4 linked regions of the Homo sapiens genome follow. The protein of the gene in region 1 interacts with the protein of each later gene in a pairwise test. Each region holds a gene or a part of one and is shown in the gene's direction. Other genes may lie near its edges.

Evidence for each region.
Region 2: the proteins of SNX11 (region 1) and REEP6 interact in binary tests that used the Homo sapiens proteins (3 or more experiments, as listed by UniProt).
Region 3: the proteins of SNX11 (region 1) and SMYD1 interact in binary tests that used the Homo sapiens proteins (3 or more experiments, as listed by UniProt).
Region 4: the proteins of SNX11 (region 1) and NECAB1 interact in binary tests that used the Homo sapiens proteins (3 or more experiments, as listed by UniProt).

The regions. Positions count from the first base shown.
Region 1 is NC_000017.11:48,110,766-48,117,795, forward strand, and holds part of SNX11 (sorting nexin-11), read left to right. Parts: exon of another isoform or gene 1-2; intron 3-1,265; 5' UTR 1,266-1,278; coding exon 1,279-1,320; exon of another isoform or gene 1,321-1,328; coding exon of another isoform or gene 1,329-1,346; intron 1,347-1,808; coding exon 1,809-1,895; intron 1,896-2,535; coding exon 2,536-2,636; intron 2,637-7,030. UniProt on the Homo sapiens protein: Phosphoinositide-binding protein involved in protein sorting and membrane trafficking in endosomes. Regulates the levels of TRPV3 by promoting its trafficking from the cell membrane to lysosome for degradation.
Region 2 is NC_000019.10:1,486,744-1,494,193, forward strand, and holds the start of REEP6 (receptor expression-enhancing protein 6), read left to right. Parts: upstream 1-4,437; 5' UTR 4,438-4,526; coding exon 4,527-4,641; intron 4,642-7,450. Other genes in the region: PCSK4 (proprotein convertase subtilisin/kexin type 4), read right to left, coding at 110-322, 398-570, 860-948, 1,042-1,118, 1,221-1,349, 1,445-1,537, 2,850-2,930, 3,050-3,154 and 1 more. UniProt on the Homo sapiens protein: Required for correct function and survival of retinal photoreceptors. Required for retinal development.
Region 3 is NC_000002.12:88,063,304-88,070,824, forward strand, and holds the start of SMYD1 (histone-lysine N-methyltransferase SMYD1), read left to right. Parts: upstream 1-4,521; 5' UTR 4,522-4,561; coding exon 4,562-4,698; intron 4,699-7,521. UniProt on the Homo sapiens protein: Methylates histone H3 at 'Lys-4' (H3K4me), seems able to perform both mono-, di-, and trimethylation. Acts as a transcriptional repressor. Essential for cardiomyocyte differentiation and cardiac morphogenesis.
Region 4 is NC_000008.11:90,913,764-90,920,793, forward strand, and holds part of NECAB1 (N-terminal EF-hand calcium-binding protein 1), read left to right. Parts: intron 1-3,728; coding exon 3,729-3,865; intron 3,866-7,030.

The DNA.
Region 1 (7,030 bases):
AGGTAAATTGGAAAGGGAAATTAAACCTTATTGTTTCTCTCTTAAGAGAGAAGGGGGTGCAGGCGGCAGCCAGGGTGGATGCTGTTGGAATAGTTGTAGAAGTAACAAGATTAGTGCTGTATTTTAACAGAAGGTGACATCATGGGCCCCATTGGACTTGAGTAACCCCGTGCTGCAGCCTTCATGGTCCCCTTGTCGGAGTGGGTGATGTCGCTATACACGTGAACTGCCACATTGGGGAAAATCAGGGGCTGAGGCTTTAATGAATCTTTACAAAGGAGCAGAACGCATCCTGAGTCGACCTGTGCAGCTGTGGGGTGCTTGGACAGAAGTACAAACCGGATGGCATGTCAGGAGAGGAAGTAATTAGAACAATTGGCTCGGGTTCCAGAGTATGGATTGGATAAGGGGAAGGTCCCAACTGGGCAACCCACTCAGGTGCTCCTTGGAGTGCTCTAGCTCTATGATTCACCTGTGGGGAGTTGACTGGTTGTTAGTGAGACTGGGAGAAATGCAGAAGCATTGGTGTTTGTGGGGACTTGGTTGTCTCTAAACAGCCGGGAGGGGGTGCTGTTAGGCTCGCTTTCAAAGCTGTGATCTGGCAGGGCGTGGTGGCTCCCGCCTGTAATCCCAGCACTTTGGGAGGCCGAGGAGGGCGGATCACTTGAGGTCAGGAGTTCGAGACCAGCCTGACCAACATGGAGAAACCCCGTCTCTACTAAAAATACAAAATTAGCTGGGTGTGGTGGCACGTGCCTGTAATCCCAGCTACTCGGGAGACTGAGGCAGGAGAATTGCTTGAACCCAGGAGGCAGAGGTTGTGGTGAGCCGAGATTGTGCCATTGCACTCCAGCCTGGGCAACAAGAGTGAAACTCTGCCTCAAAAAAAAAAAAAAAATGCTGTGATGTGAGTGCTCACCAGACCCTGTTGTGCCTGCATTCTTCAAGGCAAAAGTTTTACATCTGGACCCGCCTGTTCTGGCTGCGTGTGACAAACTTTCTGTAGACTCCAACACGCTTTGGGGAGAGGTGGCCTAGTTGAGGGCCTGGTCTGAGAAGGGAGGCAAATCCCCCAGGGCCTTTTAGCTTGGCATTGAGCTAATGGGGATTTTTTTTTTGCTTCCTCTTAAGTTTTACAAGAACAAAAAGTGTTGCCTGGGTTTCCCCACGGGGGTCTATTAAAAACTTTCGGGGTTTTCCCTGGTAAAGAATGATAAGAACAGAGGCATACTAACCTTGATCCTGTATCCTCTGTCCCTCATCAGATGTTTCCTTCCAATGGGCTTTTGGTGTAGGATGTCGGAGAACCAAGAACAGGAGGTAAGAGTATGGTCTGCAGAGAACAGGTGGGTAAAAGTTGGAGAGGGGATTTAGGAGGAAAGAGGACATAGAGATGCAAATCATTAATTATTACCTGCAGTATTACTTTGGTGGTTCTGATGAGCTCAGAATAAAGTCAGGAGAAAGAAATCAACAGCAGAGGCATTCCTAGGAAATTGGGGTTCCATTCTGACTAAATTTTCCTTTGATTGGAATATACTGGAATGTAAGCTTCATGGGGGCAGGCACTTACGTCTCTTGTTCATGCTTTATCCCCAGTGCCTATAACAGTGTCTGACACGTAGTGGGGCTCAGTAAAAATTTGTTGAATTGAGTGACTGAATTGAGTGAATGAAAGTTGAATTGAATAAATGAAAGTTGGTGTTGAGTGAATGAAAGTTGGTGTTGGGTGGAAAAATCTAGCGACCTGTGTTGTCAGAGCTGCCTTGCTGTGTAGCTGAAGCTGAGGGAGCTTTTCTTACCTACAGGAGGTGATTACAGTGCGTGTTCAGGACCCCCGAGTGCAGAATGAGGGCTCCTGGAACTCTTATGTGGATTATAAGATATTCCTCCATGTGAGTACATCAAGCTTCTGTATTGGGGTCAGCGCTCTGCAGGGCTGAGGGGCTTGTACTGAGGTGTAACCTTTTTTTTTTTTTTTTGAGATGGAGTTTTGCTCTTGTTGCCCAGGCTGGAGTGCAGTGGTGTGATCTCGGCTTACTGCAACCTCCGCCTCCCAGGTTCAAGTGATTCTCCTGCCTCAGCCTCCCAAGTAGCTGGGATTACAGGCATGTGCCACCACGCCCAGCTAATTTTGAATATATATTTTTTTAGTAGAGATGGGGTTTCATCATGTTGGCCAGGCTGGTTTTGAACTCCTGACCTCAAGTGATCCACCCTCCTTGGCCTCCCAAAGTGCTGGGATTATAGGCGTGAGCCACCGTGCAGGTCAAGGTGTAACCTATTTTTGAGTGTTTCTGGTGGACCCGAGACAGAAGACTTAGAAGAAAGGGAGGGAGGAAAGGAAAGAGAGCTTGAGGTATGTCTTTGAGTTGCTTTTGGGCTGCCTGGTGGCACCTTGTTCTAGTTGGGGACCTGATCAGGTCTGTGGCCTGATGGCATGGCTCCTCAGTGAAAGCAATGATAGGGAGCTCATGTGAACTTGTCTATTTCCACTAAACCCTTTTCATGTACTTCATGTGCTTTCATGTATAGACCAACAGCAAAGCCTTTACTGCCAAGACTTCCTGTGTGCGGCGCCGCTACCGTGAGTTCGTGTGGCTGAGAAAGCAGCTACAGAGAAATGCTGGTTTGGTGTGAGTTTGCTCTTGCTTCCTTCTTGGGTCTGTGACTGGCTTTTTGGGTGCTTATGTAGGAACTGGAGTTGACAATGAAGAGAACTTGCAACATACCAGGCACTAAGGAAATTGGGAAATATGTTGTTTCTTTTTTTGTTTTTTGGGTTTTTTTTTTTTTTTGATGTAGGGTCTTGCTTTGTTACAGAGGCTGGAGTGCAGTGGTGCAATCATGGCTCACTGCAGCCTCAACCTCCTGGGTTCTAGCAATCCTCCCACCTCAGCTTCCCAAGTGGCTGGGACTACAGGTGCATGCCACCACACTTGCCTAATTTGGAAAATATTTTTGTAGAGATGGAGGTCTCCCTATGTTACTAGGGTGGTCTTGAACTCCTGGGCTCAAGCAGTCCTCCTGCCTTGGCCTTCCAAATTGTTGGGATTACAGGTGTGAGCCACCAGGCCCGGCTGGGAAATAATGTTTTTTTTTTTTTTGAGATGGAGTCTTGCTCTGTTGCCCAGGCTGGAGTGCAGTGGCATGATCTCATCTCACTGCAACCTCCACCTCCCAGGTTGAAGCAATTCTCTCTGCCTCAGCCTCCCAAGTAGCTGGGATTACAGGTGCCCACCACTATGCCTGCCTAATTTTTGTATTTTTAGTAGAGGTGGGGTTTGTCCATGTTGGCCAGGCTGGTCTCAAATTCCTGGACTCAAGTGATCCACCTGTCTCGGCCTCCCAAAGTGCTGGGATTACAGGCGTGAGCCACCACTCCTGGCTGGGAAATATGTTCTTTTTTTTTTTTTTTTGAGACTGAGTTTTGCTCTTGTTGCCTGGGTGCGATCTCGGCTCACCGCAACCTCCACCTCCCGGGTTCAAGAGGTTCTCCTGCCTCAGCCTCCTGAGTAGCTGGGATTACAGGCATGCGCCACCACTCCTGGCTAATTTTGTATTTTTAGTAGAGATGGGGTTTCTCCATGTTGGTCAGGCTGGTCTCGAACTCCTAACCTCAGGTGATCTGCCTGCCTTAGCCTCCCAAAGTTGCTAGGATTATAGGCGTGAGGCACCATGCCCAGGCCTTCTTTTTTTTTTTTTTTTTTGAGATGGAGTCTCGCTCTGTCGCCCAGGCTGGAGTGCAGTGGTACAATCTCGGCTTACTGCAACCTCCGCCTCCCGGGTTCAAGCAGTTCTCTGCCTCAGCCTCCCGAGTAGCTGGAATTACAGGGGGTTACCACCATGCCCAGCTAATGTTTTGTATTTTTAGTGGAGGTGGGGTTTTACCATCTTGGCCAGGCTGGGTTTTTTTTGCTTTTTTTTTTTTTTTTTGAGACAGAGTTTCACTTTGTTGCCCAGGCTGGAGTGCAGTGACACCCTCCACCTCCCAGGCTCAAGCAATTTTTGTGCCTCAGCCTTCCGAGTAGCTGGGATTACAGGCGCCTGCCACCACGCCTGGCTGACTATTTTGTATTTTAGTAGAGATGAGGTTTTACCACGTTGCCCAGGCTGGTGTCGAACTCCTGAGCTCAGGCAATCCACCCATCTCCACCTCCCAAAGTGCTAGGATTACAGGTGTGAGCCACTGCGCCCAGCCTGGGCAGGCTGGTCTTAAACTGACCTCATGATCCACCTGCCTTGGCCTTCCAAAGTGCTGGGATTACAGACGTGAGCCACCATGCTCCGCCTTTTTTCTTTTTTTTTTTTTTTGAGACGGAGTCTCACTCTGTTGCCCAGGCTGGAGTACAATGGTGTGATCTCGGCTCACTGCTACCTCAGCCTCCTGGGTTCAAGCGATTCTCCTGCCTCAGCTTCCCGAGTAGCTGGGATTACAGGTCCCTACCCCCACGCCCAGCTAATTTTTGTGTTTTTAGTAGTGACAGGGTTTTACCATGCTAGCCAGGCTGGTCTCGAACTCCCAACCTCAGGCAATCCGCCTGCCTCGGCCTCCCAAAGTGCTGGGATTACAGGCGTGAGCCACCGCACCCGGCCAGATATATGTTCTTAAATCATATTTTCAAGTCAGTGAAAAAAGTAGAATCTAATTTCGAGTATTTTTACCTAACAAAGCCATACTAACATCAAAAATATTTTTCTTTCTTTATATGCATATATGTCTAGAGCTCAACAAATATACAGCTAACATTTTAAACAGTTTAAATCTGCTTATCAGAAAATTTTAAGCACCTGGACTTATTTGACAGCTAGTGTTTCCATCCACTTCACATGTAAAAATAATGATTTTTTTTTCTCTTTTAATACAGAGGTCCTTTTCCAGAGACATATGAGAGCCTAGGGAAGGCAGTTATTATTTACTCCTCACACCCACCTGCCAAATAAGTCCTGAAAGTGGAGAGAATTACAACAGTGATTTTGCTGTAGGATGGTCACTGAATACTCAGTGGTGATAGGTGGCCTGTTGAGTGACCAAGTCAGTTAGTTAACATGTGGAACTGATGAGGCTGTTGTCCTGGGGCAGGCCCTAATAAACCAGGTGAAACTCCGTTCCCCTGACAAATCCTATATCCTCCAGCCTGGCCTGTTTTTTTTTTGTTTTGTTTTTCTTTTTCTTTCTTTTTTTTTTTTTTTGAGACAGAGCTTAGCTAAGTGAGCCTCTGCCGGTCGCGGTGGCTCACGCCCAGCACTTTGGGAGGCTGAGGCAGGTGGATCATGAGGTCAGGAGTTCAAGACCAGCCTGGCCAAGATGGTGAAACCCCATCTCTACTAAAAATACAAAAAACTAGCCGGGTGTGGTGGCAGGTGCCTGTAATCCCAGCTACTCAGGAGGCTGAGGCAGAGAATTGCTTGAACCTGGGAGGCAGAGGTTGCAGTGAGCTGAGATTGTGCCACTGCACTCCAGCCTGGTGACAGAGCGAGACTGTCTCAAAAACAACAACAACAACTACAAAAAAATGTGAGCCTCAGCAGCCTCAAACGCCTGGGGTCAAGGGATTCTCCCACTTCAGCCTCCCAAGTAGCTGGGACTACAGGTATGTGCCACCATGCTCAGCTAATTTTTGTATTTTTTGTAGAGAAAGGTCTCACTTTGTTGCCCAGGCTGGTCTCTCAAACTCCTTGGCCTCAAGTGATCCTCCTACCTCAGTCTCCCAAGTTGTTGGGATTACAGTTGTGAGCCACTGCGTCCCACTCCAGTTTCTTCCTTTTTAAAAATAATAGTTGATGGTGGGTGTGGATTTCTTTTTTCCTTTTTTTTTTTTTTTCTGAGGCGGAGTCTCGCTCTGTCACCCAGGCTAGAGTGTAGTGGTGCAATCTCGGCTCACTGCAACTCCCAGGTTCAAGGGATTCTTCTGCCTCAGCCTCCTGAGCAGTTGGGATTACAGGTGTACACCACCACGGCTGGCTAATTTTTGTATTTTTAGTAGAGTCGGGGTTTCACCATTTTGGTCAGGCTGGTCTCCAACTCCTGACCTCATGATCTACGTGCCTTGTCCTCCCAAAGTGCTGCTATTACAGGTGTGAGCCACTGCGCCCGGCCTTTTTTTTTTTTTTGAGATGGAGTCTTGCTCCTGTCTCATCCTGCAGGCTGGAGTGTTTGCAGTGGCACGATCTCGGCTCACTGCAACCTCCACCTCACAGGTTCAAGTGATTCTCCTTCCTCAGCCTCCTGAGTAGCTGGGATTACAGGGGTGCACCACCATGCCCTACTAATTTTCTTTTCTTTTCTCTTTTTTGTTTTTTTTTGAGATGGAGTTTCGCTCTTGTTGCCCAGGCTGGAGTGCAATGGCTTGATCTCAGCTCACCACAACCTCCGCCTCCCAGGTTTAAGTGATTCCCCTGCCTCAGCCTCCCGAGTAGCTGGGGATTACAGGCATGTGCCACCACGCCTGGCTAATTATGTATTTTTATTTTTATTTATTTATTTATTTAATTTTTTTTTTTTTGAGACAGAGTTTCACTCTTGTTGCCCAGGCTGGAGTGCAAGGGTACAATCTCAGCTCACTGCAAGCTCCGCCTCCCAGGTTCACGCCATTCTCCTGCCTCAGCCTCCCGAGTAGTTGGGACTACAGGCGCCCGCCACCACGCCCGGCTAGTTTTTTCTATTTTTTAGTTGAGATGGGGTTTCACCGTGTTAGCCAGGATGGTCTCGATTTTCTGACCTCGTGATCCCCACCCACCTCGGCCTCCCAAAGTGCTGGGATTACAGGCGTGAGCCACCGCGCCTGGCTGTTTTTTTTTTTTAAAGGAGAGATGAGGTTTCACCATGTCGCCCAAGCTGGTCTTGAACTCCTGAGCTCAAGTGATCTGCCCACCTCGGCCTCCCAAAGTGCCAGGATTACAGGCATGAACCATGGCACCAAGCTGGGAGTGGGTTTCATAAACAACATAGTGTGGCTCGGCTTGGTGGCTCACACATGTAATTCCAGTGCTTTGGGAGGTTAAGGAAGGAGGATCACTTGAGGCCAGG
Region 2 (7,450 bases), on another chromosome or scaffold:
TTCAAAGCAGCTTTGGGAGGGTGCTAAGTCACAGTGGTGGGGACAGGAGGAGGCCAGGCTGGGATGGCAGGGCCTGGGGAGGGGACCCTGTTGGGGCGGCTGCACTCACGATCTGGGGGTCGGTGGCCACGCCGCTGCTGTAGGTGGTGGTGAGGGTGGAGGCGCAGGCTTCGCTGTACCAGGGCACGCGGCCCTGCTGGGTGGTGCTGCCCACGGAAAGCGTGTGGATGCTGTTGGTGTAGCCGTCGCAGTTGCAGTTGTCGTAGTGCAGGCCGCCGTTGCCCGAGGCCCAGATGAAGAGCGTGCCCAGCCCGCCGCGGCCCTGGGAAACCAGGAGGGGCGGGGAGGGGGCGTCGGCCTGGCCTGCCACCCCTGCCCTCCTCGGGCTGCCACTCACCTTGGTCACACCACGCCGGAAGGCCTCGCGGGTGAGGATGCCGGGGCCGTCCACCGTGCGGCCGTCGTCCTCGGGACCCCAGCTGGCGCTGTAAATGTGGATGTGCTGCGGCTGCAGGCTCAGCGACTGGGCCTCGATGACATCGGTGATGGTACCGTCCAGCATCCGTACGCCTGCAGAGCCAGGGCGGGAGGGCCGCTGCCACCGGCCCTGCCCTTCCCCACACCCCAGCCCGCCCCGCGCCACTCCACACCACTCCCCAGCCCTACCTGGGCCCTCTCTCTGCTCCCTGGAGTGGGACCATTCGTATTGGCTCAGCACCCCCCAAGCCCTGGAGTCTGGGGCCCTAGCACCACCCAGCAGTGAGAGGGTGGGCTCCCGAGTCCTTGGGCCCAGCTCCCCGCCAGAGTCACCCCCTTCCCTCTCTGTCCCGGAATGGTGCCGCTGGGGGACCCCGGGTACCTCCGATTCGGGCGTTGAAAGCGACCCCCACACCACAGAAGCCATTGTTGGCCATCGCGGCCACCTCCCCAGCACAGCGGGTCCCGTGCCTGGTGCCAGGGCCAAGAGGGGCTCCTGTCACGGCCTCCATCCCCCTGCCGGGTACTGGGGCTTCCCCCGTGTGCTGTGGGAGCCCTGCTCACCGGTTCTCTTTGCTGGGGGTGTAGCGGGGCTGGGGGTCCGGGTCGTAGTCATTGAAGTCATAGCTGGCCAGGGGGTCCTGGGGGCAGGTGGGGATATGAGGGGGCCGGGAGGCGTCCCTAGGGTGGTGCCAGCCTCGGCACCTGGGGCAGCCCTCGCCCACAGCCACCCGCGGTCTCACGTAGTTGGCCCAGAGGTCCGGGTGGTCCTTCTCGATGCCATCGTCCAGCACAGAGACCACGATGCCCTGGCCTGACAGCCCCTGACTCCAGGCCTGCAGGATGCTCAGGTCTGGTTGGGCCTCGCTGTTCTGCAGGGGGAGGCGGGGTTGTGACCCTGTGAGGGCCTGGAGTTGAGGGCGCCAGCGGCCCCGTCCCCGTCTACCCACCCTGGCTGCCTGCTCACCATGTACCACTGCTTGGAGAACCAGGGGTCCGTGGGCACCACGACAGAGCGTTTCACCCGCCGCTGCAGCGTCTGCTGCTGGAACCACTGCACCTGCAGAGCAGAGGGTGCATCAGGCCTGTCCCCTGCTCGCCCCTGGGGCCCCTCGTGGTTCAGGGAGTGAGGCAGCCCCGTGCCCTGGGACCCTGTGTTTGTGGGGGTTGCTCTCCAGGGTCCCCATGTGCCTGGGGCTCTGTCTGCAGTCGGAAGGGGTCGAGGCTTTTGGACCACCTGTCCTTGGGCCCACAGACGCGTCGTTGCTGCCGCGGGTGACTGCAGGTCCCCGGGTCCCCACCCCACTCTCTCCCCCATCCCTGTTCTAGATCCTTCTATCTCTCTCCTGCATCACTTCCTTATTTTTTTTCTTTTTTTGAGACAGAGTCTTGTTCTGTCGCCCAGGCTGGGGTGCAGTGGCGCAATCTTGGCTCACTGCAACCTCTGCCTCCTGGGTTCAAGCGATTCTCCTACCTCAGCCTCCCAAGTAGCTGGGACTACAGGCGCACACCACCATGCCCGGCTAATTTTTGTACATTTAGTAGAGATGGGGTTTCGCCATGTTGATCAGGCTGGTCTCGAACTCCTGAGCTTAAGTGATCTGCCTGCCTTGGCCTCCCGAAGTGCCGGGATTACAGGCATGAACCACCACGCCAGGCCTGGCTTCTCTCTTGCAAACCACATCAGGAACTGGCCACTGCTCTCCCTCCCGGTGCTGTAAGCAGGCAGCTGTCCAGTCCTGTTCAAGGCACTTCCTGGCCTCCGAGGGCTTCCCAGGCTCCATCCCAACCCCTCAGCTTGACATCCCAGGCATTTTCTAGACAGGGCCCAGCCCGATGGGACCCAGGCCCCTTTCTGAGCGCCTGGACACTGCGTCCTGAGGGCCACTGGGTGACTGTAAGCCTCCTACTTTTTTTTTTTTTTTTTTTGAGACGGAGTCTCGCTCTGTCGCCCAGGCTGGAGTGCAATGGCGCGATCTCGGCTCACTGCAAGCTCCGCCTCCCGGGTTCACACCATTCTCCTGCCTAAGCCTCCTGAATAGCTGGGACTACAGGCGCCTGCCACCATGCCCGGCTAATTTTTTTGTATTTTCAGTAGAGACAGGGTTTCACCGTGTTCGCTAGGATCTCGTCTCGATTTCCTGACCTTGTGATCCGACCGCCTCCGCCTCCCAAAGTGCTGGGATTACAGGCGTGAGCCACCGCGCCGGGCCAAGCCTCCTACTCTTTGGAACCCATTACGGTGTCGTAAAATCCCCTTCCCTCCATCCCATGACCTAGACGGTGGGGAAGTCACGCCGTCTGTCCCTCCTTACCAGAGCCCCTGGGGCCCAGAGGAGGGAGGGGGAGGACAAGAGGTGCCCACTGTGTACCAGGCCCTGGCAGGCGCCATGATTTCCGTATCTGGGTCTTCCTGCCTCCTCTTGCTGTATAGACTTGGGGCCCGGGCGGGTCTGAGCCACAGAAAGCACACAGCTGTTCATAACAACCACGAGAACCACAGAAGATGGCTGGTGGCCCCAGGAGGCAGCTGAGACCCCGGGCAGGGGGTTGGCCTCCAGGCCAGGCTCACCTTGGGGTTTTTCTTCAGGTGCAGGCGGTGGCCCCAGTGCGGGGTCAGGGACTGCTGGACCACGCCCCGGTGCCGCAGGTGAAAGTACTGCCCGTCAGGGAAGATCTGGGGATGTGGGGAAGCGGCCGCACCGATGGGACCCGGCTCCCCTGCTGAAGCCCCCGAGGGCCGGTAACAGCCCCCTTCTTTGTCCTTCCCCAGCAGGTGCTCTCTGGGAGTCCCAGAAGCTGAGCTTGGCTGAGGCAGGGGTGGGCTGGGACTCTTGATATTTAGAAGACCTTGTGGGCTCCCTCCCCCTTGTCGGGGTCTAGGGTTGTTCAGTCCCCTCCAAGCCCCCACTTCCCGTCTATCCCGGTCCCACCCACCGGCCCCAGGTTGACGAAGCCGAATTTGCGTGCCAGGCGCTCGACCTCCCGGTTACCCTGGGACACCTGGACGGCCCAGCTGCTGACATAGATGGGGGCTCGGACCGGGGCCCACCCCACAGCCCGGGGGCGGACAAGGGCCAGGGCCAAGACCAGGCGCAGCCACAGCGCAATCGGGGCGGGCCGCATGGAGGCGGGGCGGGAGCGGGGCCTGCGCAAATCCCCTCCCTCCCGCCAAACCGCCGAGTGGGCCCAGGCGTCCGACCCGCCCCCGGCGCCATAGCAACGCAGAAGGCTTCGACTCCCAGGGGGCCTTGCGGCTACTCAGCCAGGAGGGGCGCGAAGATCTAACAGAAGCGGGAGAGGGACGCACGCCTGCCCGTCTTCCGCAGACCCACACCCTCGGGAGCCTCAGTTTTCCCATTTGTACAACGACAAGACTAACCCAGAGAAGCGGGTTCACTGTTGCGATAACGCGTCCTACCCTTTGTTTGACCTCTCCCACTTTCCAACACACCCCTCCTTCGAGAATCAGCCCGGCCTCCTGTCCGGCCTAATCAGAATCATTCTTTTGCGTAATCCCGCCTCCTCCGATAAGCCTCGCCCCGTTCCCGCCCCTACCATTCCGCCCTGCCTCCTTTGTGATCAGCCCCGCCCTCCACTGGTCTCGCCAATGAATCGCGTCCCGTTTCTCCAATCGGCTCGGATGTTTCTTTAGCCCCTCCCCCCGGTTCCGCCCCCCCACGCCTCTCCTCGCCCTGGCTCCACCCTTCAGCCAATAATCCCATCCTCTGACACCGCCCTTCCAATCAGCTACGTCTCGCTCCGGCCCGGCCAATCGGTGCCCTGGGCCGCCGCGCCCCGCCCTCTCCCGGCGGGGTCTGGGCAGCGGCGGCCGTGGCGGAGGGCTATGCGGCGGGGGAGACGGGGCAGGCCCCTCCTCCTTTGTCCGCCCTGCCCTCCCATTGGTCCTAGCGGGGGGCCGGGGGCGGACACCGGCGCGGGGCCGGAGCATCGCGGCTCAGGCTGCGGGAAAGCGGTGCGCGTGCAGCGGGGTGGGTGCCCTGGTCCGCGGGCGAGCTCGAGCAGCCAACCCCGGGCGCGTCGGGGCCATGGACGGCCTGAGGCAGCGCGTGGAGCACTTCCTGGAGCAAAGGAACCTGGTCACCGAAGTGCTGGGGGCGCTGGAGGCCAAGACCGGGGTGGAGAAGCGGTATCTGGCTGCAGGTGAGCCGTCGGCGCTAGCCCGTTTCGCCGACGGGCACACCGAGGCCATGGGCCTGGGGGTCGCAGACCGGACTCCTTCCCCGGCTACGGGGTCCGGTCCGGCCGGTGGAGCGCGCGAGGTGACTGGGACCTCGAGGTCCGCCCGCAGCCCTTCCCTTGCCCGCGCCCTGCGACCCTGCTCCCGGGCCACCCCTCTCTAGCTTCCGCCCCTGGCCGCCCCCCGACGCCTCCTTCCGGGCGCTGGGTGCCTGCCATGCCGAAGTCCGGTTCTTCCAGTTGCCCAGTGGCCCCAGAGGGGTCGGGATGCCAGTGTCCTGCGCGTTTCGCCGTCCCCCTTCCCCCGTGGACCCCGGCCTGGCTGCAACAGTAGAGATCTTCCCGTTTTTCTGAGGGGAGGCTCCTGGCGGGAAGGGGAACGGACCGTCCTGGGGGCCTGCCCAGGACCCTTCTCCTTTCCTCCTCCTCTCCTGCCCTAGCTCACCTTCCCCCAGCTCAATGGCTTAGTGCCACCGAGCGTAAATGTTTGTTAAGACGGAGTTGGGTTGTCTGACGGCTGTGATGTGGGGAGGCTGGACTGGGGCCCACAGAGCCGGAGATCCAGGCACCCCGATTGTGACTCCATTACAGTTCTTCCGTGACTTTCACCCTTGGTGACGCTGCGCGCCCCTTCCCCTTTCCAAATCTCTAGCAAGAGCATGTAGTAAACGCTCCTTAAATGCCTCCCTCCCCACCTTTAAAACTTTTTTTTGAGACCGAGTCTTGCTCTGCTGCCCAGGCTGGAGTGCAGTGGTGTGATCTTGGCTCACTGCAACCTCCACCTCCTGGGTTCAAGCGATTCTCCTGCCTCAGTCTACCAAGTAGCTGGGATTACAGGTACCCACCACCATGCCCGGCTAACTTTTGTATTTTTAGCCGTTCAACATGGTGAAACGGGGTTTCACCATGTTGGCCAGGCTGGTCTTGAACTCCTGGCCTCAGGTGATCTGCCCACCTCGGCCTCCCAAACTGCTGGGATTACAGGCATGAGCCACCTTGCCTGGCCTAAAACTTTTTAAAATTAACTTTTTTAAGAGACAGGGTCTCACTATGTTACCCAGACTAGTCTTAAACTTCTGGGCTCAAGCGATCCTCCTGCCTCAGCCTCCCAAAGCTCTGGGATTACAGGTGGAAGCCACTGCACCCAGCCTTTCTTCCGTTTGTGTGGTGCTCCCAGCCCCACTGGCTCTGCCTTCTCTTCCAGGAAGCTCCGCAGAATGACTCACAAGGACTTGCTCTGGGCCTGGGGTATTCTGGGTAGAGGACAGTGCCACTTTTTTGAGCACCTTCTGCAGGTGGATCCCAGGAGTCCAGTTCCCCCCCAATTTTCCCACCATCTGGGGGTTCCCATGCCAGGCAGCGCCAGAACAGTCTGAAGTCTGTGCCCACACCCTGGAGGTCCCCAGGTGCCTGGTCCCATGTGCAGCGCAGCAGGTGGCATGGGCATGGCCCGGCTGTGCCTGCCCCCGGGAGCAGGTCCCTGACCTCTGCCCTCCCTTTCCACATCCCTGGGGCTAGTGGGCAGGAATTTAGGTCGTAGAGCGCCCAGGAGGCAGGCAGCAGGGAGGGGCTGCCTGGGGCACCGTGTCACCAGAGACGAAACTGAGGCACAGGGAGGCAGGGGCTGCCTCTGTGCCTGTTCTGTCTGAAGCATACAGTCCTCCACCCTGCCCACCCCCAGTCCCATCTGCTGCTAATCTTGGGGGCTGGGCCTCCCTCCACAGTTCTGATGTCCAAGGTCATCCTCCCGTCGCTGAAGCTGCAGGAAAAGGGATTTAGGGGAGGGACGCCCTGGGAGAGTCATTCCTCCCCACGAGCCAGGCCCGGGGAGAGATGGCAGTCCCTCATCCCCATCTCCCACCTCCTTTAAATTGACAAATCCCACACCCCTGGGTAACATACGAAGAAACTCAGAGGGGACAGTGACTGGGAGGCCACTCCTGGGACCAGCTGGGGGACTCCTCCTACCCCTGACCTTGGGTGCTTTTGGATAAAGACTAAAGCAGGTGGGAGGGGCTGGGGGGACTTGGGCCTCTGCCCTTTGGTCCAGAAGTGGCCTCTATCTCACTCTGCAGATAGCAGCCCCAGGGGAGGAGGAAGAAGGCTGTCCAAGCTCTCTGGAGCACATAGGTTCCCTGTGTGACCTTGGGCAACACCCACCCACCCCCAGTTTTGGCTGTTGAATAATTCAGGAAAAGCACAAAACCTGGCACACAATAGGCGCTTAATAAATGCAGCTGTCGTAGTCATTCTTTTCAGAGCCAGGTTCAGGATTGGGGCTGAGCTGGACACACACACACACACACACACACGTTTTTCTCTGAACACCCTCCTTGCTGGGACTGTGTTATAGTTGCCTGAAGGCACTTAATAAATGTGCAGAAAGGCTGATGGCGGTGGCTCACGCCTGTAATCCCAGCAGTTTGGGAGGCCAAGGCGGGCGGATCACCTGAGGTCAGGAGTTTGAGACCAGCCTGGCCAACATGGTGAAACCCCGTCTCTACTAAAAATACAAAAATCAGCTGGGCATGGTGGTACGCTCAGCTACTCAGGAGGTTGAGGCAGGAGAATCACTTGAGCCTGGGAGGCGAGCTTGTAGTGACCTGAGATTGCGCCACTGCACTCCAGCCTGGGTGACAGAGCAAGACTCCATCTCGAAAATAAATAGAAATAAACGTGCAGAAAGGCGTTCTCTCTGTTAACTTGTAACCATAGGAGGCAGGGGCCATTACTACTCCCACTTACCAAGGGGGAAACTGAGGCTCCATGCAGC
Region 3 (7,521 bases), on another chromosome or scaffold:
CCTTAATCCTGGCCAGAGATGCTAGATCCCCTGAGAAGCAGGGGACAGCCTGGTACAATGAAGACTCTCTGCCCACCCCGCACAGCCTCAAATATCTGTATGTGCTCTTCAGGTAGGCAAAAAGCCAGTTTATGATTGTCTGAGTCTGGAAATCCATTTTGTAAGTAATCGTAAAGTAGTTTTTGTAAAGTTTTAATATATGCTGAATTTTCCAGCAATGCAACTTCTTGTTAACCAAAGAAAGATCAAACTTTATTTTGTTTAGAACTCCCCTAAGAGTCGCTCACCATTTCAGAAAATTATGGTCACAGGCAACAATATGGTATTTGTGTCCTCAAAATCAATCTGCATTTTTGTTCTCACTATCATAGTGATTCCACTTAGAGGTACAAACATCTAGCCATTTTATCTCATCTTCTAATATAGTTGTACCCAAGCATATGCATAGTGAGCACATTTACACATTTAATTTACAATAAATAGATATTACTACAAATTAACTTTGATTTTCTTTCACCTTTGTTAGATTAGACTAGTCATTTTTCTTAGGTATAAGAACGAATAAATTATATTATGTAAGAATTTCACTTTAAAGTAACAAAAAGCATGTTACATAATATTTACTATAATGAGACTAATATAGTAAATATTTACTATATTTACTATTGCTGCTGTGACAAAATATGACAAATTTAGAGACTTTAAAGAACATAAATTTATTATCTTACAGTTCTGGTGGTCAGAAGCCAGAAATGGACTTTACATGGCTGAAATCAAGGTCCGCAGGGCTGTGTTCCCTCTGGAGGTTCTAGGGTAAGAATCTGTTCCCTGGCCTTTTCCAGTTTCTTGGCTCATGGCCGCTTCTTCCATCTTTAAAGTCAGCAACACAGCCCCTTCAATATCTCTCTGACTCTGACCCTCTTGGTTGCATTGTCGCATCTCCTCTGACCCTGGCCCTCCTGCCTTCCTCCTATAAGGATCCTCATGATTACATTGGTCCTACCAGGATAATCTAGGATAATCTTCTCATCTCAAGATCCTTAACTTGATCACATTCACAAAGTCCCTTTTGCCATATAAGGTAACATATTCACAGATCTAAGCATTAGAATCTGCACATCTTTGGGGCCTGTTATTCTGTCTACCACCCTTTAATAATATAATAACCATTGTTCTGATAAGGTTGAGGCCCACAGGTATAATTAAAGTCCTGGGCTTCCTCTCTCCATATGGTCTTGGGGCTGGTAAATTTCTTCCTTGTCCGTGGCTTGGGCTGAACCTGCTCCAAGAGTGCCTAGTCTAGGGAACAAGCTCATCTGAGCCAGGCTGAGCCCCTGGCCCCTGAGGGCAGACAAGTTATTGCAAGACCCTGAGTTGCCAGGCAATGTGGATACAGGGTATTCATTGGGAGTCAACCTGGATTGAAAAAAACCTTTTTTTTTTTTTTTTTTTGAGATGGAGTATCGCTCTGTCACCCAGGCTAGAGTGCAGTGGCATGATCTCGGCTCACTGCAACCTCCGCCTCCTGGGTTCAAGTGATTCTCCTGCCTCAGCCTCCTGAGTAGCTGGGACTACAGGCGTGTGCCACTACGCCCAGCTAATTTTTGTATTTTTAGTAGAGACGCGGTTTCACCATGTTAGGCAGGATGGTTTCAATCTCCTGGCCTCGTGATCTGCCTGCCTTGGCCTCTCAAAGTGCTGGGATTACAGGGAAAAAACCTTTTTAATATTTCCTCTCCTCTCCTCTCCTTTCCTGAAAACCCCTCCCCTCCCCTTCACTTCGCTTTCCTTCCCTTCCCTCCCCTCCCCTCCCTTCCCTTCCCTCCCTTCCCCTCCCTTCCCCTCCCCTTCCCTCTTTTTTCCTGAGACAAGAGCTTGCTCTGCTACTCCTCCCCTCCCCTCCCCTCCCCTCCCCTCCCCCCCTCCCCTCCCCTCCCCCCTCCCCTCCCCTCCCCCCCTCCCCTCCCCTCCCCCCCCCCCCTTCCCTCTTTTTTTTCTGAGACAAGATCTTGCTCTGTCACCCAGGCTGGAATGCAGTGGCATGATCATGGCTCCCTGCAACCTCTGCCTCATGAGCTCAAGTGGTCCTCCCACCTCAGCCTCCTGAGTAGATGAGACTACAGGCATGCGCCACCATGCCTGGTTTATTTTTTGTATTTTTGGTAGAGACAGGGTTTCACCATGTTGCCCAGGCTAGTCTCAAACCCCTGGGCTCAAGTGATTCACCCGCCTCGGCCTCCCAAAGTGCTGGGATTACAGGCATGAGCCACTGCGCCTGGCCTTCTTTCTCTTTTTTTTTTTTTTTTTTTTTTTGAGACGGAGTCTTGCTCTGTTGCCCAGGCTGGAGTGCAGTGGCGTGATCTTGGCTCACTGCAAGCTCTGCCTCCCCGGTTTACGCCATTCTCCTGCCTCAGCCTCCCAGTAGCTGGGACCACAGGCGCCGGCCACCACGCCCAGCTAATTTTTTGTATTTTTAGTAGAGACGGAGTTTCACCGTGTTAGCCAGGATGGTCTCGATCTCCTGACCTTGTGATCCACCTGCCTCGCCTCCCAAAGTGCTGGGATTACAGGCGTGAGCCACTGTGCCCGGCCTCTTTCTCTTTTTTTAACTCTCTGTTTTGTAGAATTGTTTTTCCCCTTGGGAGCATGCAGTGTTTACTTTTTGAGGCACCTAACTTTACATGTCTTAAGTTATTTTGCTCTTCAGTGTACATCAGAAGCTGCAGAGATATTCTCTTGCTGTCATGGCTATGTATTCTTACCTAAAAATCAGGATATATGATCAGACAATGAACTTTCAACATGCTTCCAAGAGTCGAAGGTGTTTTGGGAGATTCAATTGGTTGAAGACATGTTAAAATTTCTGGTACATCGTGATAGTTTAGGGAGGATAATGTGACAGAGTAAATAAAATAGAATAGCTATCACTTAATGAGTACTTTATGAAGTGCTAAGTGCTGTGTTATCCCCTTTTACATATTATCTAACTCTCACAATCCAGTGAGGTAGAAATTATCACCCTTGTTTCACAGGTTCCATCTCAAGTGGTAGTAGCAGGCTTAGAATTCAAACTCAGATTCATCTGACTCAGAAACCATACACTCAGAAAAATCCAGGAAATGCCCCTGCCCACTGCCCCCCACCCCCGCCGTCACCCCCACCCCCAACCCCCACCAGGAAATAGATGCATCCCAGGAACTAAAAATCTTACATGGAAGTCAAGCCAGAGCTCCAGATCTGCAAGTGTATTTCTTTTAAACCTCAGTAAAAGCTGCCTGATAGCCAAGAACAGTGGCATTTAGTTCAACGGGGATTTTAGATTCGTCTTTCCAGTGTCCTCACTCCTGAGTAAGAAGAAGGACAGAGCACGTTGGTATTTTCCTGGCAGCAGACACATGTTAAAGGAAATTTGATAGAAAGATAGAGATGGGGGTTGCTATTTTTATAGCCTGCCTTGTCTGTATCCAGCCTGCCTCCAGCATACCAGCATCACCAGCAGTGCTAAGAACAGGGAATTCCATGCTGTGGAGTAGGGGGTGCTGTAAGAGCCCCAGGTGATACTGGAGAGGAAAAATGCCCCCTTGGAGCCTAAATAGTACTGTTACGTATATGCCAAGGGCTCAGTTTAGCTTCTTCTTATTATTTATTTATTTATTTATTTATTTATTTATTAATTTTTTGTTGAGACGGGGTCCCACTCTGTCGCCCAGGCTGGAGTGCAATGGCGCGATCTCGGCTCACTGCAACCTCTGCCTCCCAGGTTCAAGCAATTCTCCTGCCTCAGCCTCCTCAGTAGCTGGGATTACAGGCGCCCGCCACCACGCCCAGCTAATTTTTGTATTTTTGGTAGAGACGGGGTTTCACCATGTTGGTCAGGCTGGTCTTGAACTCCTGACCTCAGATGATCCATGTGCCTCGGCCTCCCAAGGTGGGGATTACAGGCGTGAGCCACCGTGCCCAGCCCTCAGTTTAGCTTCTGCTGCTAAACAGTCCACCCTTGGGAGAGAGACTGAAAAGGGTGGGGCGAGGGCCCATCTCACTTGAGAAAGTGCAAGCCTGACAGCTGAAGGGTCCCAGAGCAGCAAATATCACCTTGTTTCTATGGGACCATTCCAGCTGTCTGCTTTTGATTGACAGAGGCATCTGGCTGCTAAAAATACCCTCCTGACCAAATGTTCCCTACTCCAACTAAAGCCGAACAGGATTGTTGCAGTTCAGAACTTAGCACATACAGATAGCTTCTGCTTGCAATGGAACCTCTCAAAACTTTTCAGGCCCTATGCCATATTAACCCATGGTCATTTTCTGTTCTGTCGGCTTTGCTGGGTGATGAATGAAACTCTTCCCAGTTCACTTGTTCTCTTGTCTGTCCCATCCCCACCTCCAGGAAAAGTAGCAGAGGGGGAGGTGAGGGCCCAGTAGCTGAGAGCGAGTAGGGAAGGGGAGGTGGCTTGTCCATTTATAGTCTTGCTCTTTGGGATGCTGAAGGTGCTGAAATAGCAATGACAAGAGACTTGGCTCAGTGTTAAATAACTGCCGCGCTGGCCTGACAGTCTCTGAGATGACAATAGGGAGAATGGAGAACGTGGAGGTCTTCACCGCTGAGGGCAAAGGAAGGGGTCTGAAGGCCACCAAGGAGTTCTGGGCTGCAGATATCATCTTTGCTGAGCGGGCTTATTCCGCAGTGGTTTTTGACAGGTATGAAATGTGGGGAGTTGCCTTCTCTCCTGTTAGTTTGGCTGGGGCCAAACTCTAAAATACTTTGCTCTCAAAAATCATCAGGGGAAGGGATAAAATTCATGTGCTCTTTTTTCAACAAAATGGCACTTCTGAGAGCTAATTTTTCTGGCACAAATTTTTCTGCAAGGGATCATTGCCAGTGTGATTTGCTGTGGCTCCTAGAAGGGTGGTGAAGGTGAGCAAAGGCTTCGGGGGCACTTTCTCCCAATACTGGCCAACTTGGCTGAGAGGGTGTGCTGGGAGTGGAAAGGTGGGTGTGGTGCTGTGGGAAACATTTTCCGACAGAAAGCTCTATATTTTTAGCTTTCTTTTTATTATAAATACATTACCAGATAAAGTAATTGCTGAGACTTTAAAAATTATGAACTATTTGTATATTTATAATTATGAATAACCCAGGAATCCACTTTCCCTTGAAAAATCTGAGTATCACCCAATCCCAGTCCCCTCTGTCTTTCCTCAGATATTACCCCTGCTATTATTTCAATGTATTTCCTTCTAGAATGTTCCTGTGCTATTACATACATATATCTGCACTTAACAAGATGGATGGCTGTAGTCTGTCTGGTTTTTTTTTTTTTTTTACAGAAATGGTGTCATACTTCAGATGTCATTTTAGAACTCACTCTTTTCCCTAAACAACACGTTTTTGATGTCTATCCTTGCAGGAACTTTAAATCTATAGATACTTCTTTTAAATTCCAAAGATCTATTTCCTTTATAGAGCTATCCATATAGATTCATATGCCATATGAATCATCAATCTTAATTTTAAATATTTCATCCTATAAATATATGACATTTTATTTATCCATTCCCCTATTGAGAGACAATTGGTAGTTTTTAATTTTTCATGAAATAAAATGAAAATCCTTGATCGTGTCTACCTGTACATATGTTCGATTGTTCTCCAGGGCACAGGACTAGAAGAGGAATTGCTGGGCCGTAGGATGTGATGTTTTCAGTTTTATAGGCTCTCCAAACAGGCTCTATTAAATTTACATTCCCGCTTCCTCACGACCTTGGCCACACTAGACTACCAAGCTTTTAAATTAGTAATAAATCTTCATTTTAAACAAACCTACATGGTGATTACATTAAATTGTCAATATTTTCTGAGATCAAGGTTGGGGTGACCTGCTTGACATCTATGTGGTTTGAGTCTGATAACCTAGGCTTTGTGGTTGGCTGGCTGCACTGACCACCCTGGGAAAGGGCACTGCTTCCCACAGATAACTTGATTAGTATTCACATTCTCTTGTCTTCCTGCCCACTAAGACCTTCAGGGAAAAGGGTGTGAACTGGGGCATATGGCTCACCACCACTTGAGGAAAATAAGGGGCTGAGGTGACTTTTTCAGGGGGAGCTTGTCTTATTTCATTAATCTGTGTGTGTGTATGTGTATGTGTCAGGGGAGGGGTGAGTACAGTTAGGGAGCCAGCTGGATTCAGAGTGAAAACAACCCAGAAACACAGGGACTGTCAACACTAATTCTGGCGCTGCCAGTGAGTTACTGCCTGGCCTTGTGAAGAACATCTCCATTTGCTGCTTCCAATTCCCCAAAGTCAATCTAGCCAATCAGTTCCATTTCAAGAAGGTTAAAGTTGAATGGGCTTTCATTCCATTATAAAAGCAAGGCATTGTCATTTTAGAAAATTTAGAAAGATAAGACATCACACAGCGATAACCACTCTTAACATGTTGGGTATCTATTTTCGGTTTGTTTTAAAACATAGGTTTCATTTGGCTGTAATATACTCATTATACAAGCTATTATGCTTTTTCATTTAATAATTTTGACATCTTCTGTGCTATTATACACTCTTCAGAGACATAGTACTTAAGGGCTACGTCTTCTTCTATTACCTGCTGATGACTGGCCATTTGGATTGTTTCCATGTTTTTGTTATTATAAATAATTTGTCATTCATTTGAAGTAACAACTATAAAAACACCTTCATATACATTGCAGATAAATGCTACATAAAATCATATATTATTTTTACAATGGTAATAAAAGTGGGATAATTGGTATAAATGACGTTTAAAATGATTGAAAAAAAATCTAAAAGAGATAGTTTTTTTTTCAAAAAATGCTTTACCCAAACTTGTCACTGCATAGATGAGGGAGCTGTGCTTTCTTTGGTTATACCAGAGACAGCCCAAAGAGGCATTAAAGGAAAGTTTTATGCATTTTAGGCTCCTGGTGAGGCTCAGCCACCATAGATGAGAAACTTGATTGCAGAGGTGGGACTGAGTCACCCACAAAAGTCACTGTACAAAACTGGCTTGTTTTAATCCATCTTACTGCAAGACAGGCTTTCCTACTCTTCCACACAAATGTGGAGAAAGATTTTATTTTTAGTTGAGCACTGCATTAAATGAAAATTAATTCTTTCAAACAGTGTGTATTATATATTCTAACATATATATTATATGTTATATTGTATATATTCTAACATATATTATATAAAGCATAGCAATAAATCAACACCAAACCAACTTAACTAGAATATTCCAATATGTTACATCTTCTCTATCCTGTTGCATGCCTGCTCCAAAGGTAATTATCCTAGGTTTTGTGTTGTATATTCTACTGCCTTTTAAATAATAGTTTTGGCCGGGTGTGGTGGCTCATGTCTGTATTCCCAGCACTTTGGGAGAACCAGGCGGGCGGATCACCTGAAGTCAGGAGTTCAGGACTAGCCTGGCCAACATGGTGAAACTCTGTCTCTACAAAAATACGAAAATTAGCCAGGCATGATGGCAGGTGCTTGTAAT
Region 4 (7,030 bases), on another chromosome or scaffold:
GGAACATCTGCTGCATATCTGAGAAAAGGGAAGGAAGATTGGATCTGTGCCACCCGGGTCTGCAGTCTCAAACCTTGAGATCCAGAATAAGGGAAGGGAAGGAGACTAACAAATGGTCCAGAAAATAAAATGAGGACAAACAGTCTGTTAGAACAAAGCTGTATTTTTCTTTATTGCAGAGCCCACATGACTGGGCAAGTCGGGTGGTAATGTCTACAACCAGCAAGGGCTGGATGCAGGGGGAGGCAGGTGGTGACCAGCCAGTGGCAAGAGTACTTCCCAGAGCTTGGACACTCCCTCTGGTGCCTGACTCTCCATGTGGGACCCGGTTTCTCACACATTTCTTAAGCATTTATGGGGCAGCTGCTATGAGGCAATTTTGTTCTGAGTACTCTGGAGGCAGAGATGAATAAGACATAATCCCTGTGCTTAAAGAGCTAGCCTAAAATGGGGAAGATAGACAAATGAACAACAGATCACAACATCACAATGAAAAATTCTACATCCTATGAAAAATTCTATATCCTAGGTAGGGAAGAAATGTCACAAAAATACATAGAAGTGGAAAGATGTATTCCTAATCCTATGAAGAGAAGTGGTGGTTCAAGGAAAGGAACATCTGTACAGAGACAGTGTTACAAGCTGAGTCTGGAAGGATAAGTAGGAATATTAGAAAACAAGGTTTTTTTCCTCCTTATCAATGAGGGGTAGTATAAAACAGCAAACCTTCATAATTGACTCAAAAAATTTAATCCTCCAAACCTTAAACCCACCCACCACCCCTCTCAATTTCAAGGCATCAACATTTATATCAAAGAAATGTATCAACCAACTGGGTTCTGCCACTTTTCAATGTTACCTACAGAGTCACTAGTAAGGTTATCAAACTCTCATCAGAGTGAGATAAGAGGGTTAGCCTAATCATAACTTTCTGATTTGCTATGGTGGAGCAATGATGAGTGGCCAGTTGTCTGACTTTAACTTTTCTTAATTATCTAACTTTAACATCATCAAAATATTTGTATGTAAGATCACAATAGCAAATGCAATAAATTCTTAGAGTTAGGAGTGTATCTGCAAACTATCAGGTATGAATGAACCTCTACTCCACCATAAGGGATACAGAAATAAAAGACATGACCTTTCTGTCAAAGAAGCTGAAACCTAATTGCAATGACTGGAATGTTTAAAATGACTAACTATAATTTTTTAATCTCTTTTCTATAATTCTGACATGGCAAATATTTAACATTTAAATGAGAAAAGAGTAAGGACAATGCTATGCTTTATTGCTCAGTAAATGTTTGCTTTCTTCATTTTTCAATGCAGTCTACAAATAAGTATAAAACTTTTTATCATTTGCTTTATATTAGTCATAGTATATACTGAGATGCGAAAATAGTTGGTATAATCCCTGACTTTGCAATTATATTTTATCTTCATTTTAATAAATTTTATTTTTTAAAATATCCATTGGTGATATGGAAATAACTGTGGGAAAAGACTCAAACACACCTTTTTTTCTATCATCACATTTTCTTTCAACCTCAAAGAAAAGCCTTCCTCAATTTTAAAAACTCATTCAGAGAGAATTTTTTGAAGTTTTTTTTTAACCAATAAATAGCAAGCTATGAGATCAAATTAAATATTTGGAATATTTTTAGCTTGATTTAACTCACCCAAAACTCTTAAGATTATTATAAGCATGTAATGGTTATGTTTAGTTTACGGTTAGTTTCTTAAATGGAGTTTAAAGACATTGCAATTTTTAATTTTTAAATAGGACTATTATATATGGTAGATGTATTGGTCAGGGTTCTCTAGAGGGACAGAAATAATAGGATAGATGTTTATATGAAGGGAGTTTATTAAGGATAATTGATTCACACCACATGATCACACAGTAAAGTCCCACATAGGCCCTCTGCAAGTTGAGGAGCAAGGAAGCCAGTGGTGGATCAGTCTGAGTCCCAAAACCTCAGAAGTAGGGAAGCCAACAGTCCAGCCTTCAGTCTGTGGCCAAAGGCCTGACAGCCCCTGGCAAACTACTGGTGTAAGTCCAAGAGTCCAAAAGCCAAAGAACTTGGAGTCTGATATTTGAGGGCAGAAAGCATCCAGCACAGAAGAAAGATGAAGGCCAGAAGACTCAGCAAGTCTGCTCTTCCATCTTCTCCTGCCTGCTTTATTCTAGCCATTCTGGCAGCTGTAGTAGTTGGTACCCACCCAGATTGAGGGTGGGTCTGCCCCTCCTAGTCCACTGACTCAAATGTTAATCTCCTTTGGCAACACCCTCACAGACACACCCAAGGACGATACTTTGCATCCTTCAATCCAATCAAGTTTACACTCAATATTAACCATCTCAGTAGATAAGAAAATTTCCTGTGTTGTTCACCTGTAATGAATGAGCTTAAAAAGAGGCTGATGATTGAAACTTTTTACTATTTCAAATTGAGAAAGAAATGAGATTTTCTATGCTATTACATTATTCTTCTATTAGAAAAACTTCCAAAGTAAACTATATCAGGAGGCCATAGTCCAATTCTTCCTAAATTAAAGTTGATAGAAGCACAGAATATTTTTGAGTTGGAATGTATGCCAGAGTTACTTAGTGATTTATAAGTGGGAAAACTGAGAACCAGGAAGGTTAGATACCTAAATCTTACTTGTTTGGGTTTATAACTATGCCCTAAGCTTCTTCAGCATATCAGGATCCGTGGTATTGTGTTATCACCCTCAGTCGTTTTGTGTTTTGTCTTTTCAGCCATAAAAAAATTTTGTTTAGGGACAGAGACAAATAAATCTTTTCCTTGGCTGAACTTGAATGTACCATTTCCACTCAAGATTCTAGAAAATCAGATTTCACTGGCTGGTCCCATGATCTGAAAGAGTGGCCCTGTCACCATCTTATTCCACACCAACCTGGTTTTTGTTGTTGGTTCTCCCTGAGACTTTAGGGAGACAAGCACAGCAGGTGGTACCATCCACAGCTCACCCATCTACCTTGAGTAAGCTTGGCAAGTACACTTATTCAGTCTGCAGTGACCTCTGCAGTGACCCTGGGGCTGTTTCAGTGAATGCTGCTTTTGTGGCTCAGGTGTTGTCCTAGAAGTTAATTGTCAATGAGCCTCAGGTAAAGTTACTGAAGGAAAGACATAAGCAGATTTAGTAAACCATTTAAATACTCCAATCCTAACATTTTCTGAATTTTAAATAACTACACATAATTTTCTTTGTCTTCAGCATAATACGGATCAAGCATAATAAATACATCAAGAGTGAATTAAGCCAATTGCTGAAACATGGTTGCATTTTGTTGGTAATAGTGAAAATATATGATGGCGTGGTCAACATTCAAATGAGACATAGAACAAACCCTGAGTTAGTCACATTCTGATCTTCCCCCTCCGCCACCGGATATTTATTTTTTCTTTTCTACAGATGTCTATTTTGCAACTCTGCTGGTTTTGTCCTTTTTCTTAATCTTGAGGCAGGTATATTGGGAGGCAAGATATTCCAGTCATTTCTGCAGCTTTTTTATTCATCTCCTGGTGGGTGGATGAGAGTGATGCTGTAGCCTCCAGGGCTCGACAGATCTTTTCCCTTCTCTCCACCCTCTCTCTCTAGGATCAATCTGGGATTGATGGGTACATGGTAAAAGAAAAAAAAAAAATCCTGGGTATTTTTTTCTACCATACTTCTAATTGCATTTGTTTTGTCACCCTTAGGACTACCAAGAAGCCTCCAATTTGGAACAATTCGTAACTAGATTTTTATTGAAGGAAACCCTGAATCAGCTGCAGTCTCTCCAGAATTCCCTGGAATGTGCCATGGAAACTACTGAGGAGCAAACCCGTCAAGAAAGGCAATTTACATGTTTTCATCTGATGTCTATTTAGTGACTCTATGTTCATGAAAAAACAATTGAGAGGCATTGTACTTACACTAGCAAAAACTAAAAAAGAGAATTGATATATTTAAAAAGAATGACAGTGACCTCCACTGGTTGCTTGCCTTATTATTTGCCTCTAAAAAGACCATTCTACTTTTTCTTTTACTGTCAGTCATTTAGTAAACTATATATATATATATATATATATATATATATGTGTGTGTGTGCGTGTATATATATGTCTGTGTGTATATATATACACACACACACATATATGTGTATGTGTGTATATATATACACACACACATATGTGTGTGTGTGTATATATATACATATATGTGTGTGTGTATATATATATATTTCTTTTTTTTTGAGATGGAGTCTCACTTTGTCACCCAGGCTTGAGTGCAGTGGCACGATCTTGGCTCACTGCAAACTCTGCCTCCCGGGTTCAAGCAATTCTTGTGCCTCAGCCTCCCAAATAGGTGGGATTACAGGCACACACCACCACGTCCAGCTAATTTATTGTATTTTTTAGAAGAGACGGGGTTTCACTATGTTGATCAGGCTGGTCTTGAACTCCTAACCTCAGATGATCCACCCATCTTGGCCTCCCAAAGTGCTGGGATTACAGGTGTAAGCCACTGAGCCCAGCTGAGTCAACAAATTTTAATTGAAAATTTAGTAGATGGAGAAGACTTTAAAGTATTATGAATAATATAAAGATACATTTAACATAATGTCAATCCTTAAGGAAGCCTAAGTCTATCATATAAATAAGACATGAACACAAAAACTATACTGCAAAGAACAAAGTGATAATAAATACCGTAGAGAAGAGGAAATACATTGCCAATTGTTTTCAGAATATTAAAAGATTAAATATGGATAGAGGGATGGAAGGATGAGAAAGTCAATTTCATGGAGTTTCTCTATTTGAGCTTGTCTTGCAAAATCAAGAGATCAGTGAAAAAGCCTGGTGGGAAGACAAGACTTGAACTGGACCTGTAGGATGAATTTGAATGGCAGAATGAGAGTCTCTCTAGAGGGATCCGTCTCACCCACCTCCTGTTACCCACCTCTCATGTGGCTCACTTCTCTTTGGTTGTCTGGTCACTGATTGGACAGTAATTTCTCTGGGAAGCCTTCACTGCTCATTCATACCTCCCACTTCACTACCGTGTATTCCTATAGTGCCCCCTATTTATATCTACTTATCTCAACCCCTTCCTTGTTAATTTGGTGTAATTTTGAAAATGTGGAAATGATGGGAAAGACCCTTACAGACTACATGAACCTGGATATACTTGGGAGACCTGATAATTCAGTAAGCCTAATTATTTCAGGAAATGGAGAAAAGTGAATGATGGAAATTATTTCAAAATTCAATGCCACCAATAGGTATCACTGAGAAAATAAGTAGTCATATTGCAATAGCTATATAAATAAAGGCACTAATGCTTAAGAGACACCTATACTAAAAATGTGTAGGGCACACATCAAGGTGATCCCAGCCAACAGTTGATATTTTTCTGAGTTGTCATTGCTTATACTTTGCAAGCTAGAGAAGCTTGCAAAACTCTTGCTCCTGGGGCATATTTTGGCAGATGTGTTACTTTAAACTTATAGATGTGCTTTATCTAACTTTTACATCTTAAATTAGAGAGAAGGAAACAGTAAGTTTTCTGAACAGGCTGATAATAGACTACCCTGCAGGACCAATTTTCCTGAACAAATTAACTGATACATAATTATTAGGACATCTCCAAAATAGTGGAATTTTCAACCATGTGTTTACAATGTCAAAATGAGTGAGCACCACCAACTTCTAACAAAAAATCCTGTAATTCCAGAATCTAATGAGCCCATGCAGCTGACTGTCACAGGGAAGTACTCTTTAGCAGATCTGTGAAGCATCCTCTACATCATAAACTTCCTGTTTTCACTGCGTTGGGTGATTCTATACCAAATGGCAAAGTATAACAATTCACTTTAGAAAAGCAAAACCCACCTCCTCAGCTTTGAGCAGAGGATAACTGAATGTCTTGAAGCACAGTGAAATGGATTTCATGTTCCTAATGAGAAAAATGAGGCCTCCTGTGTTGTTTCTTTTGTTTGGACTTTCTGGAAATAAAATGGGAACTCCCTTTTTAGAATCAGTCATCTGCCACCTGAGAAGAGGCTTGAAAAAGTGCTCTACTCCCCTTCTTCACCTGCGCTTTTGTTTTTTTCTACAGTCATCCCCTGAAAACCTGTGCTCTGCATTTACCACCATGCTGTGAATGTTTAATGAACAACTGTTTTCTGTGTTAGGCCACAGGCTAGCCTTGAACTCTTGTGACTGCTGCCAGCAGCTGCCTAGCAGCTGTGCTTAATGAGAAGGAGCATGACAATATAGACTTTAAGGAAAGTAGAAGGCACTAGAGGATTAACGAACCTTTTACTTCTGGATTTCTCACTCAAAAACAGCTTCAAATAATGGGAAATGTTACATGTCTGACTGCAGTTTAAGGGGTGCTGTTGTATGGCATTTGACTAAGACACCCAGGAATGACAAAATCCCACCCCAAATCTGTGATATTCCCCCTGAGAGGTTTATAAAGAAATGCATAAACAAGCAAACAGAAAATAAGGTACCACTATGGATTTATGCCCGTAATATCTGATGAACCAGACTGAAGCACGTGAATTATGCCCAAACCTAAAGGGACTGTGTCTCCTCTCCCAAGGCTATATCTTCCTATCAGCTGGCCACCAAAAGTGAGGAGAGCCCTGGGACCTTCATCAGTGAGGAAAAGATAGAGAGAGAAAAACTATACCTTTCCTATGATGTCAATCAAGAGACCAGTGAAAACGCCTGATGGGAAGACAAGACTTGAAGTGGAACTTTAGGATGAATTTTAATGGCAGAATGAGATTCTCTCTAGAGGGATCCGTCTCACCCATCTCATGTTACCCATCTCTCATCTGGCTCACTTCTCCTCGTCTGTCTTGTCACTGATTGGACAGTACTTTCTCTGGGAAGCCTTCACTGCTCATTTATACTTCCCACCTCATTACCATGTATTCCCATAGTGCCCTCTATTTATATCTACTTATCTCAGCCCCTTCCTTGTTTATCTCCCCCATTAGACATTG